Homo sapiens: one gene and its partners. The protein of the gene in region 2 purifies or fractionates together with the protein of the main gene of each other region. This does not show direct contact. Each region holds a gene or a part of one and is shown on either strand. Other genes may lie near its edges.

Region 1 (3,500 bases), on a different chromosome or scaffold from region 2:
CTAGCTAATTTTTTTGTATTTTAGTAGAGACGGGGTTTCACCATGTTGGCCAGGGTGGTTTCAAATTCCTGACCTCAAGTGATCCACCATCCTGGGCCTCCCAAAGTGCTAGGATTACAGGCATGAGCCACCACACCCAGCCTGTATTTTTTGTACAGCTGAGGTCTTGCTATGTTGTTCAGGCTGGTTTCCCACCTCAGCTTCCCAGCGTGCTGGGATTACAGGCATGAGCCACCATGCTCAGCCTAAAAATATATTTATATATATATATTTTTTGAGACAGAGTTTCACTCTTGTCACCCAGGCTGCAGTGCAATGGCACGATCTCAGCTCACTGCAACCTCCACCTCCTGGGTTCAAGCAATTCTCCTGCCTCAGCCTCCCAAGTAGCTGGGATTACAGGCACCCGCCACCACGCCCAGCTAATTTTTATATTTTAGTAGAGACAGCGTTTTACCATGTTGGCCAGGCTGGTCTCGAACTCCTGACCTCAGGTGATCCACCCACCTCAGCCTCCCAAAGTGCTGGGATTACAGGCATGAGCCCCGCGCCCAGCCAATAATTTTTAAATGAAGTATGTAACATAAGCCAAGATTTTTCTTGTCATCTTTTATAAATGAAAATTCACATCAAAGGACTGAATCTGAATGACAGAAGTTCCCTGATCAGATAGTTTTATGTTAAGAGACACACAAATGAAGTGGACACTGTCCTCATCTATAAGCTCCAGGAGTACCTGGAAGTGAAGTTGGAGACTAGCACAGTGAATGCAAAGCCCCAGAAAGAGCTCTGAGAGGCTCTTTGCAAAAAAGGCTTCAATGGAGTTTTTCCTCCCCCTAATGGCTGCTGGAGAGAACTTGGCACTAGTAGAGTGGCTGCCCTTAGAGCACAGTGACAAGTACAAGTTAATCTATGGCTGTCCTAGACAAGTCCCATGATCTGTCGTGGAATGACTACCATCCTTACCTGGGCACTGTCCATGCAGGAACTGCCAGAGTCCCACGGTGCCCAGCTGCTGGAGGGTCAGTTCCTCTGCTTGCAGGGCCACAGTCAGGTCCTCACCACGTACCTCAATCCCAAAAGACACCTCATTCACCTTCAGGACCAGAACTGAGACCTATCAAAGGAGATTCTCTTAGTTTTAAGTCCCAAGCTCTCAGCCCAGAGCCTACCCTCTGCAGAGAAGAAAGTAGAGCTGCTGACCGGGTGAAAGATGAGGTCTTCTCCACTGGGTGAAACTGAACTGTTGGCTGCTGGTGACCCCTGGCCATAATTATTCACAAGAGGGCTCCCTTGAACACCAGCATTATCTGAGACATTTGAAAGAGATCCTGGTGGAACAGATTCTGGACCAGACTCTGCATGAAAAAGAGGACAAATGAATTTAAAAGTCAAAATATTCTGTTCAAATCCAACCTCTACAAACAATGACAACTGTAAAAATAAAACAAAATACTTATGACATTCATGAGACAACTAGAAATTTGAGGACTAACTAGATATTTGATGAATTTAAGGAATTACTCTTAATTTTTTAAAGTGTAATGACATTTGATCCCATTTTTAAAAGTCTGTAAACAGAAGCAACCCAAGTGTCCTTCCATGGATGCAAGGATAAGCAATGTGGTATATAAATACAATGGAACACTATTCAGCCTTAAAAAGGAAGGAAATTCTGACACACGCTACAAAATAGAAGAATCTTGAGGATATACCAAGTGGAATAAGCCAGTGATAAAAGGACAAATACTGCATGATTCCACTTATATGAGGTACCTAAAGTAGGCAAATTTATAAAAATAAAGTAGAATCATGGTTGTCAGGGACTGAGGGGAGGGGAAATGAGGAGTTACTGTTTAATGAGTACAGAGTTTCTGTTTCGCAAGAAGAAAAACATCCTGCAGATAGACAGTAGTAATGATTGTACAACAATCAGAATGTACTTAATGTCACTGAACTATCCACTTAAAAACGGTTAGGATGGCAAATTTCATATGTATTTTACCACAATTTAAAAAAATTTAAGTCTGTATTTTCTAGCAATGCATAACTGAAAATATTTATGGACAAAAGGATATGTTTGGGATTTGCTTCAAAATATTATGAGATGAAGGAAAGTGGGCAGTAGTGTTTATGAAACAAAAATGGCCACGAGTTCTTTTTTTTTTTTCTTTTTTTTGAGATGGAATAGTCTCGCTCTGTCGCCCAGGGGAGTGCAATGGCGTGATCTCGGCTCACTACAACCTCCACCTCCTGGGTTCAAGCAATCTCCCACCTCAGCCTTCTGAGTAGCTGGGATTACAGGCGCACGCCACCATCCCTGGCTAATTTTTGTATTTTTAGTAGAGACAGAGTTTCACCATGTTGGCCAGGCTGGTCTCAAACTCCTGATCTGCCTGTCTGGGCCTCCCAAAGTGCTGGGATTACACGCGTGAGGTACTGTGCCGGCCTTCTCTTTCCTTTTAGACTGGATGCTTCCCAAGGCAGAAATCCAGTCACAAGTTTAATTGCTGTCTAAGGTGAATATATAAGAACCCCAGGAGATTTTTCAGAACTTTAATTTAAATTTGAGAATTAGGTTTCACCTTAAGTGATCCGCCCACCTTGGCCTCCCAAAAGGCTGGGATTACAGGCGTGAGCCACTGCCCCGGGCCTGCCATGAGTTCTTAATTTCAAAGCTAGGTAATGGGTGTATGAGGGTTCATTATTTGATTCTGTCTACTTTTGTACATAGACATGAAATCTTCCATAAGAAGTTAAAAATAATAACAAAACAAACATGGTACATGCCACCCAGCTTAAGAAACGGTGCATTCTCTTAAATTAAAACCACAGTGAAATATTAACTCACTCCTGTCAGAATGCCTATTCTCAAAAAGATTAAAGATAACAAGTGTTGGCAAGGATGTAGAGAAAAGGAAACCCTAGCACCCTGTTGGTGGAAATGTAAATTAATATGGGCATTATGGAAAACAGTATGAAGGGTCCTCAAAGCTAAAAATAGAGTTACCATATCCACTTCTGGGTATATATCCAAGGAATATGAAAAAAAGTATATCAAAGAACTATCTCCATTCCTGTGTTTACTACAACATTATTCACAACAGCCAAGTTATGGGATCAACTTATGTGTTCATCAACCAATGAACAGATAAAGAAAATGTGGTACAAACACACAATGGAATACTATTCAGCCTTATGAGAGGGAAATCCTGTCATTTGTGATAACGTAGATGAATCTGGAGGACAGACAATATGCTAAATGAGATAAGCCAGGCACTGAAAGACAAAAATAGCATGTGCTCACTTACACATGGAATGTAAAACAACTGTACTCATAAAAGCAGAGAGCAGGATGGTGCTTAACAGAGGCTGAAAAGGGAAATGGGAGGGGTTAGGAGGAAATGTTAGTGAACGTGTAATGTTTCAGTTAAACAGGAGAAATAAATGGTAAGTATTTGAGGTGACGGAGATGTTAATTAGTTTGGCTCAAAAATCCC
Region 2 (3,735 bases):
ATCTCTTAATCCTGTCATCTTCATAAGCTGAGGATGTATGTCACCTCAGGACCCTGTGATGATTGCGTTAACTGCACAAATTGTTTGTAGAGCATGTGTGTTTAAACAATATGAAATCTGGGCACCTTCAAAAAAGAACAGGATAACAGCGATGCAGGGAACAAGGGAGATAACCTTAAAGTGTGGCTGCCTGTGGGCAGGGCAGGACAGAGCCATATTTCTCTTATTACCAAAAACGGATAAGAGAAGTATCACTGAATTCTTTCCCCAGTAAGGAATATTAATAATTAACAGCCCTGGGAAAAGAATGCATTCCCAGGGGAGGCCTCTGAAATGTCCACCGTGGGAGTGTCTGCCTTATGCAGGTGTAGATAGGGATGAAACATGCCCTAGTCTCCTGCAACGCCCCCAGGCTTGCTAGGATTAGGAAATTCCAGCCTGGCGAATTCTAGTCAGACCGGTTCTCTGCTCTTGAACCCTGACAATGCGTGCACAGCGGGACATGGAAGTTCATTAGTGATTCTAGTTTCACCCTGACCTTCTGCCTTGTGATCTTTTGTTGCCCTTGAAGCATGTGATCTCTGTGACCCACACCCTATTCGTACAATCCCTCCCCTTTTGAAAATTGCTAATAAAAACTTGCTGGTTTTGTGGCTTGGGGGGCATCATGGAACCTGCCAACATGTGATGTCTCCCCTGGACACCCAGCTTTAAAATTTCTCTCTTTTGTACTCTTTCCCTTTATTTCTCAGACCGGCCAACACTTAGGGAAATAGAAAAGAACCTACATGAAATAATATTGAATTATCGGGGGCATGTTCCCTTGATATTAGTCCTGTTATTCAACCTTTCAGTATCATTTAACTGATACTTCTCAAGTATTGCTTGAAATGTTTTCTTCACTTGGCTTTTAGGCCACCATGCTTTCCTGGTTTACCTTCCTTTCTTAGCATTCCTTCTCTCTCTCACTTTCTGACTTGTCCTCTTTCCAGCCTCTAAGTTTTGTTGTAGGACTCAGTCCTTGGATCTGTTTTCTCTATTTGCATTTACTCTCTAGGCTATCTTGTCCAGTTTCCATAGCTTTAAATACCATCCATATGCTGAGAATTCCAAATTTATATCTTTAGCCGCATCTTCTGTGAGCTCTAGCCTCATATAACCAATTTGCATGTTTGACATAAACACTTGGTCATAGAATGAGCATCTCAAATGTAGCACACCCAAAAAGACATAAGAAAAAAAAACCATTGGTTATCACTCTACCCTACAACCTACTCCAGTTTTTCCCTTCTCGGTAAATAGCATAACATTTACTCAATTGTGTAAGCAAGTAATCCAGAAGTTATCTTTGGTTCTGCTCTTTCTCCCTACTGTCTATATTCTTAAGTCTTGTTGACACCACCTTCAAAATACATTCCAAATCTAACATTTCTCATCACTACCATCTCACCTAAATTATTGCAGTCATTTTCTATTGATCTCTGCATCTACTCTTGCCCCATCTCAGTTTCATTGTAGCTACAGTATTCTTTTCAAATATTATTTATATTTAATCATTACCATGATCAAGATCCTCTAATAGCATCCCTCATATTTAGAATAAGATCTAAACTTCTTACCATAGTTTACAAACAGTATCCTCTGGTTTTTCCCTCTCTTACCAACCTCATCACCTACCACTCATTACCTAGCTTATTCTGCTTTTCCTAAACTGGCCTCCTTGCTCCTCCTGTAATATACCAAGATCCTTCCTGCCTATTTGGCCTTTGCACTTGCCATTTCCTTTGCCTGAAACATCTCCCAGAGCTTCATGTGGTTGCTCTCTCATTGTATCTTTCTACTGAGATGTTACCTGTTCTCTCATAATGCTTACTTCTCTAGTCATTCTGTTAGATACCCGCTTGTTTCTTTATCATTTGTCATCTTCTGTCTTCTCCATGGAAACATATGCTCCTGAAGGGCAGGGACTTGCTCTTATTCACCAGTGTGTGCCCAGTGCCTAGAATAGTATTTAACACATAATAGATGCTTGCAAATATTTTTTTTTTAGACGGAGTTTTGCTCTTGTTGCCCAGGCTGGAGTGCAGTGACACAATACAAAGATTTATTCGATGAATGAATATACCATTTTACTGAAATAGATGTTTGACTCATAGGCAAATTGATTCTCCTTTTCTCTAGCAACAAAGAATTTCCCATTGCTTCTCTCTAGTACTTGACGCTGTGTGTCTTCCAACACCCTCCTCTTCTAATGTTTGTATTTCAGTACCACCAGCCACCTACCATATCACTGTCTCACACACCATATCCTGTAAATTGTCAACTCCTGTTCATCCTTCCTTTGTATTTTGCCTCTTAAATGTTTGCCTCCTTCTGTATCTCCTTTCCTAGTTGAAACCTTTATCATCTCTTACTACTTGATTGCAGTAACCTCCCAGCTTTTCATTTTGTCTTACTCAGTACATCCTCCACATTATCATCAGACTTTAAATTATACATATGGTTTATCTTTGTATCTCTTGCAGCATCTATTACTTTTTTTTTTTTTTTCAATAGTAGGCACTCAGTGAATGTTGAATGAATAGTCCTGTTTCTGGAAAGTAGAATTGGTGGGCCTGTGATTATTTTAATGGCTGTAATTCTTTGAAAAGAATTTATGCTTAAATAATCACTCTTTAATCCTGTTTTAGAAATTCTGTAGCAATTCTTTGTTGTCCATTGTTTTTAATGGACTTTTTAAGTGGCTATAATCACACAATATACTATTGGGATATTTCACAGTGGAATTTTGTTTACTGCTTTAATAGAATTCAAGTAATATCTGTGCTTCTCTATTAAAGTGATTCTTTCTTTTCTCTTAAAGCTAAAGTCTCCAGTGAATATTGAATTGCTGAGGATTTTGGGAAAAGACAAATCAAAGTTCCCATTCCATGGATCCCTTAGGTGCACCTTCCCAGTTTGTGGATGTGGATACACTACCAAGCTGGGGTGACTCATGCCAAGATGAATTAAATTCCTCTGATACTACAGCTGAAATATTTCAGGAAGACACTGTTCGATCACCTTTTCTTTATAATAAGGACGTCAATGGAAAAGTGGTTCTTTGGTAATTTTTTGATTACATCATATCATGAGGAGATAACACTTTCTCATAATTTATTCTAACCTCTTTTTTAAAGCCCTAGCATTGTTGAAATACAGCTTTGCGTATACGTATATGACTTTATTGAGGTATAATTGACATTTAATAAGCTACATATTTAAAGTATACAATATAAGTTTTGACTTCTGTTAATACATCCTTGAAGCCATTACCACAGTCAAGATAGTGAATATACCTGTCACCTCCAAAAGTTTTTTTTTCTGTTCCTTTGTAATTCCTCCTTCCTGCCCTTCCCTCCCTCCCCATCCCCAAGCAACCACTGATCTTCTTGTCACTATAGGTTAGTTGGCATTTTCTAGGGTTTTATTTAAATTGAATTGTGTGCTTTTTGGTCTGTTTTCAGCAGAATGATGGATTTAAGTTCATCTGTGTTGTGTGTATCAGTAGTAGTTCATTGCTTTAAAAAACTGCTTTACTGAAATACTATTCATATACAATATAATTCATCAATTCAAATTGCACAATCTAGTGATTTTTAATATATTCATAGAGTTGCATAACCCTCACCACAGTCCATTTTAGAACATTTTCATCAGCCCAAAGCCCCATTAGCAGTCACTCCCCATTTTTCC
Region 3 (3,735 bases), on a different chromosome or scaffold from region 2:
TGATGTGGCCCTGAGGAAGTGAAATCATCGATTAGAATTTCATTTTCTTTATCTGTAAGTAAAACACTCTGAGGTCATTTCCAAAAGTCGGCTCTAAATATGCTATAATTCCAAATATGGAAATTTATAAATCTCAGTTCTCACTCCAAAGTCGTTATCTGAGGGGGGACAAATCAAACTATTGTATCAATAAACCTAAGTACAAATACAATTCATTTTTATAGGCTCACTTTCTTTTTGTTAAGATTTTTCTTTTTTAAAAAATTATTTATTTATATTTTATTTTACTTTAATTTTTGGGATACAAGTGCAGGTTTGTTAGACAGGTAAACGTGAGTTGTGGGGGTCTGTTGTATAGATTATTTCATCACCCAGGTATTAAGCCTAGTATCCATTAGTTGTTTTGCTTAGCCTTCTTCCTCCTCCCACCCTCCTCCCTCCAAAAGGCCCCAGTGTGTGTTGTTCCCTCCTCTGTGTCCATGTGTTCTCATCATTTAGCTCCCACTCATAGGCTTATAGGCTCACTCTCTTTCTATCAAAGTTTTTGATTTCCTTTTCATAAAGACAAGGGCACTACTGGATGACCTTGTGTCAATGTGATACATCACCCATGTGGAATTGGCTAATACCTTCATGGGTTGAGTAACTTCTTGGTTAACCGGTATAACGAACCTATTAAATAGAACATACAGGTTTCCTTTTCTAGTATTCAGCCTATTGCACAGAACATACACATATTGTTTCCTTTTCTCAAACGTTCTTGTTCCCCTTCTAACGTAGGTAAAAATCATCTCACTCTCCATTGACTTAGCTACTAAGATGAAACACTTTTCTTTCTAGATTTGTAAAAATGAAACCATGTTCATGTGAAAAAAATGTTTACATCATCTCCCTCAAAAAATATAAGGTAAAGGGAATAGCATTAGATTTAGTAATTTGTAAACTTAAAGGTCTTACATATGGGCAAATAATTTATAAAGAAGCCACAAGTTGGCTGGGCGTGGTGGCTCACACCTGTAATCCCAGCACTTTGGGTGGCCGAGGCAGGCAGACCACAAGGTCAAGAGATCAAGGCCATCCTGGCCAACATGGTGAAACCCTGTCTCTACTAAAAATACAAAAATTAGCTGGGCGTGGTAGTACACGCCTGTAGTCCCAGATACTCGGGAGGCCGAGGCAGGACAATCGCTTGAATCCGGGAGGTGGAGGGTGCAGTGAGCTGAGATTGCGCCACTGCACTCCAGCCTGGCAACAAAGGGAGACTTCCTCTCAAAAAAAAAAAAAAAAAGAAAAAAAAGAAGCCACAAATTGTGCGTGCACATTGTATGGAAACAGTTACATCTGCATCTCTAGAGGTTCCAGTGGGGGGATGCAAGCCTGTTGCTGAGGTTGCCTTTTATGGTGTTTGAATGGAATCATGGCAGGAAATAATACTGGAAACAGCCTAATCTAACTGTATTCTGTCTCAAAAGGATACAGGGTATTCCCTTTGCTTACTTATGTTGGTTTCAAGGGGAAAGAATGGGTAGGCAAAAGCTGGGTGCTTTAAAACTTTGGACAATATGGGTGGGCGTGGTGGCTGACGCCTGTAATCCCAGCACTTTAGGGGGCCGAGGCAGGCAGATCGCCTGAGGTCAGCAGTTCAAGACCAGCCTGGCATGGTCTTGGTGAAAACCCGTCTCTACTAAAAATACAAAAAATTAGCCGGGCATGGTGGCACATGGCTGTAGTTCCAGCTACTCGGGAGGCAGAGGCAGGAGAAGCACTTGAACCCAGGAGGCTGAGATTGCACCACTGCACTCCAGCCTGGGCGACAAGAGCAAAACTCCATCTCAAAAGTTAATTAATAAAGTAAAATAAAAATACAAAAATTATCTTGGCATGGTGGTGCACGTCTGTAATCCCAGCTACTCGGGAGGCTGTGGTAGAAGAACTGCTTGAACCCGGGAGGCAGAGGCTGCAGTGAGCCAAGATTTCACCACTGCACTCCAGCCTGGGTGACAGTGAAATTCCATCTCAAAAAAAAAAAAAAAAGACTTTGGACAACATGGGTGTAAATAATGACTTGTGGACTAGGAAGAAATTGGAAGGGATAGAAAAGATTGTTTCTCTTCCTGAAGGAATATAAGCAGCAGCTCTTGAATTAAATAATAAAGAGTATTTTTATAAAATGATTTTGATCACAGATTTTGTAACAACTAATTTAGCTTTGCTTGAGGGGATGGTAAAATTTGCCATGCTAGAGCTAGGGACAAAGGAGGTCAGTAAATGAAGACCATATATTTTAGAGTTTAATATGTATATACATAGAGTATGTGTGTGTGTATGTATGTGCATGTATATGTGTGTGTGTGTGTGTGTGTATATATATATATAACTAGAAGAAATATAGTGACATTTATTTTGAATAATACCTTACTGTCTTCACAATAGACAGCTTTTGGCTAGACATTTTAACTGCCTATTGCTTTATAGACTCAATATAAAAGGAAGAAGACTTATTCTGAATCTATTTCTCCATCTAGAAAAGGAATGATTTCATATGGAGAAACAAAACACGTTCTAGGAAAATATTCTTCTTATGTTGTTTAAGTTCAGTGTAAAACACAGCTGTTGGCCCTGTTTCTGGGCAATTGCTTTCTGACTTTAAATTTGAAAAAGAACATAATACATTGGAAGGAGTGTGGCCTTTGAAGTAAAAAAAAATTTCCTATGTGACTTTGAGCCCTCTCTTTCTCTTTTCTGAGACTCATTTTTTTCCCCTGTAAAATGAGACAAATACCCAGGAGGTGGAGGTTGTAGTGAGCCAAGATCGTGCCACTGCACTCCAGCCTAGGCAACTCCGTCTCAAAAAAATAAGATAAAATAAAATGAGACAAACAATTTCTACTTCTGTCGCTGTTAAAAGTATTACAGATTATGTGTATGGCCTCTAGAACATAACCGGCACTCAATAAACTGAAGCTCAAATAATTTGTTTTTATTTGTGTTACTTAACCTTTGGCAAGCATGTGAAAGTATTATTAATATGAAGTAATTAACTAAAATCTTATACTAAAGGAAAAAAATACTTTGATAGAAAATCCCATAAAGCAAATACTACGGAATCTGTTTTAGTTAAAACACAAGTATGAGATTGATCCCCAGAATTCTGGTGGGTAATCTTAAGTGGCCAGAGCAGAGATTGAGAAATCACTGACAAATAGAGAGGTATTGTTGATCCAATGTTTCAAATATTCAAAGTTGACAGATATGAAGGTTCAAAATACCTGTTTAAAATACCTGTATAAAAAAGCTGCCCTGGCCGGGCGCGTTGGCTCATGCCTGTAATCCTACCACTTTGGGAGGCTGAGGCGGGTGGATCACAAGGTCAGGAGATCGAGACCATCCTGGCTAACACCGTGAAACCCAAAAATACAAAAAAAAAAAAAACCAAAAACCGTGAGGCGTAGTGGTGGGCGCCTATAGTCCCAGCTACTTGGGAGGCTGAGGCAGGAGAATGGCATGAACCCAGGAGGCGGAGCTTGCAGTGAGCCAAGATCGCACCACCACACTCTAGCCCAGGTTACAGAGCTAGACTCCATCTAAAAAAAAAAAAAAAAAAAAAAAAAAAAAAGAGAGAGAGAGAGAAAAGGCTGCCCCTGGGTCTGAAAACATCCTAAAAGTCCTATAAGTGACTGCCATTAGATGAATACATTCACACAAAGCCTGTAGAAAAAGATTTTTTATATATTC

What was found.
Region 1: the proteins of GDAP2 (region 2) and BLTP3A purify together in Homo sapiens (affinity purification with mass spectrometry, with the first as the bait; one large-scale study listed by BioGRID). This does not show direct contact.
Region 3: the proteins of GDAP2 (region 2) and ZDHHC2 fractionate together in Homo sapiens (co-fractionation; one large-scale study listed by BioGRID). This does not show direct contact.

Annotation. Positions count from the first base shown.
Region 1 is NC_000006.12:34,865,083-34,868,582, reverse strand, and holds part of BLTP3A (bridge-like lipid transfer protein family member 3A), read right to left. Parts: intron 1,359-3,500; coding exon 1,204-1,358; intron 1,118-1,203; coding exon 967-1,117; intron 1-966. UniProt on the Homo sapiens protein: Tube-forming lipid transport protein which probably mediates the transfer of lipids between membranes at organelle contact sites. May be involved in the retrograde traffic of vesicle clusters in the endocytic pathway to the Golgi complex.
Region 2 is NC_000001.11:117,919,553-117,923,287, reverse strand, and holds part of GDAP2 (ganglioside-induced differentiation-associated protein 2), read left to right. Parts: intron 1-2,863; 5' UTR 2,864-2,930; coding exon 2,931-3,106; intron 3,107-3,735.
Region 3 is NC_000008.11:17,201,363-17,205,097, reverse strand, and holds part of ZDHHC2 (palmitoyltransferase ZDHHC2), read right to left. Parts: intron 1-3,735. UniProt on the Homo sapiens protein: Palmitoyltransferase that catalyzes the addition of palmitate onto various protein substrates and is involved in a variety of cellular processes.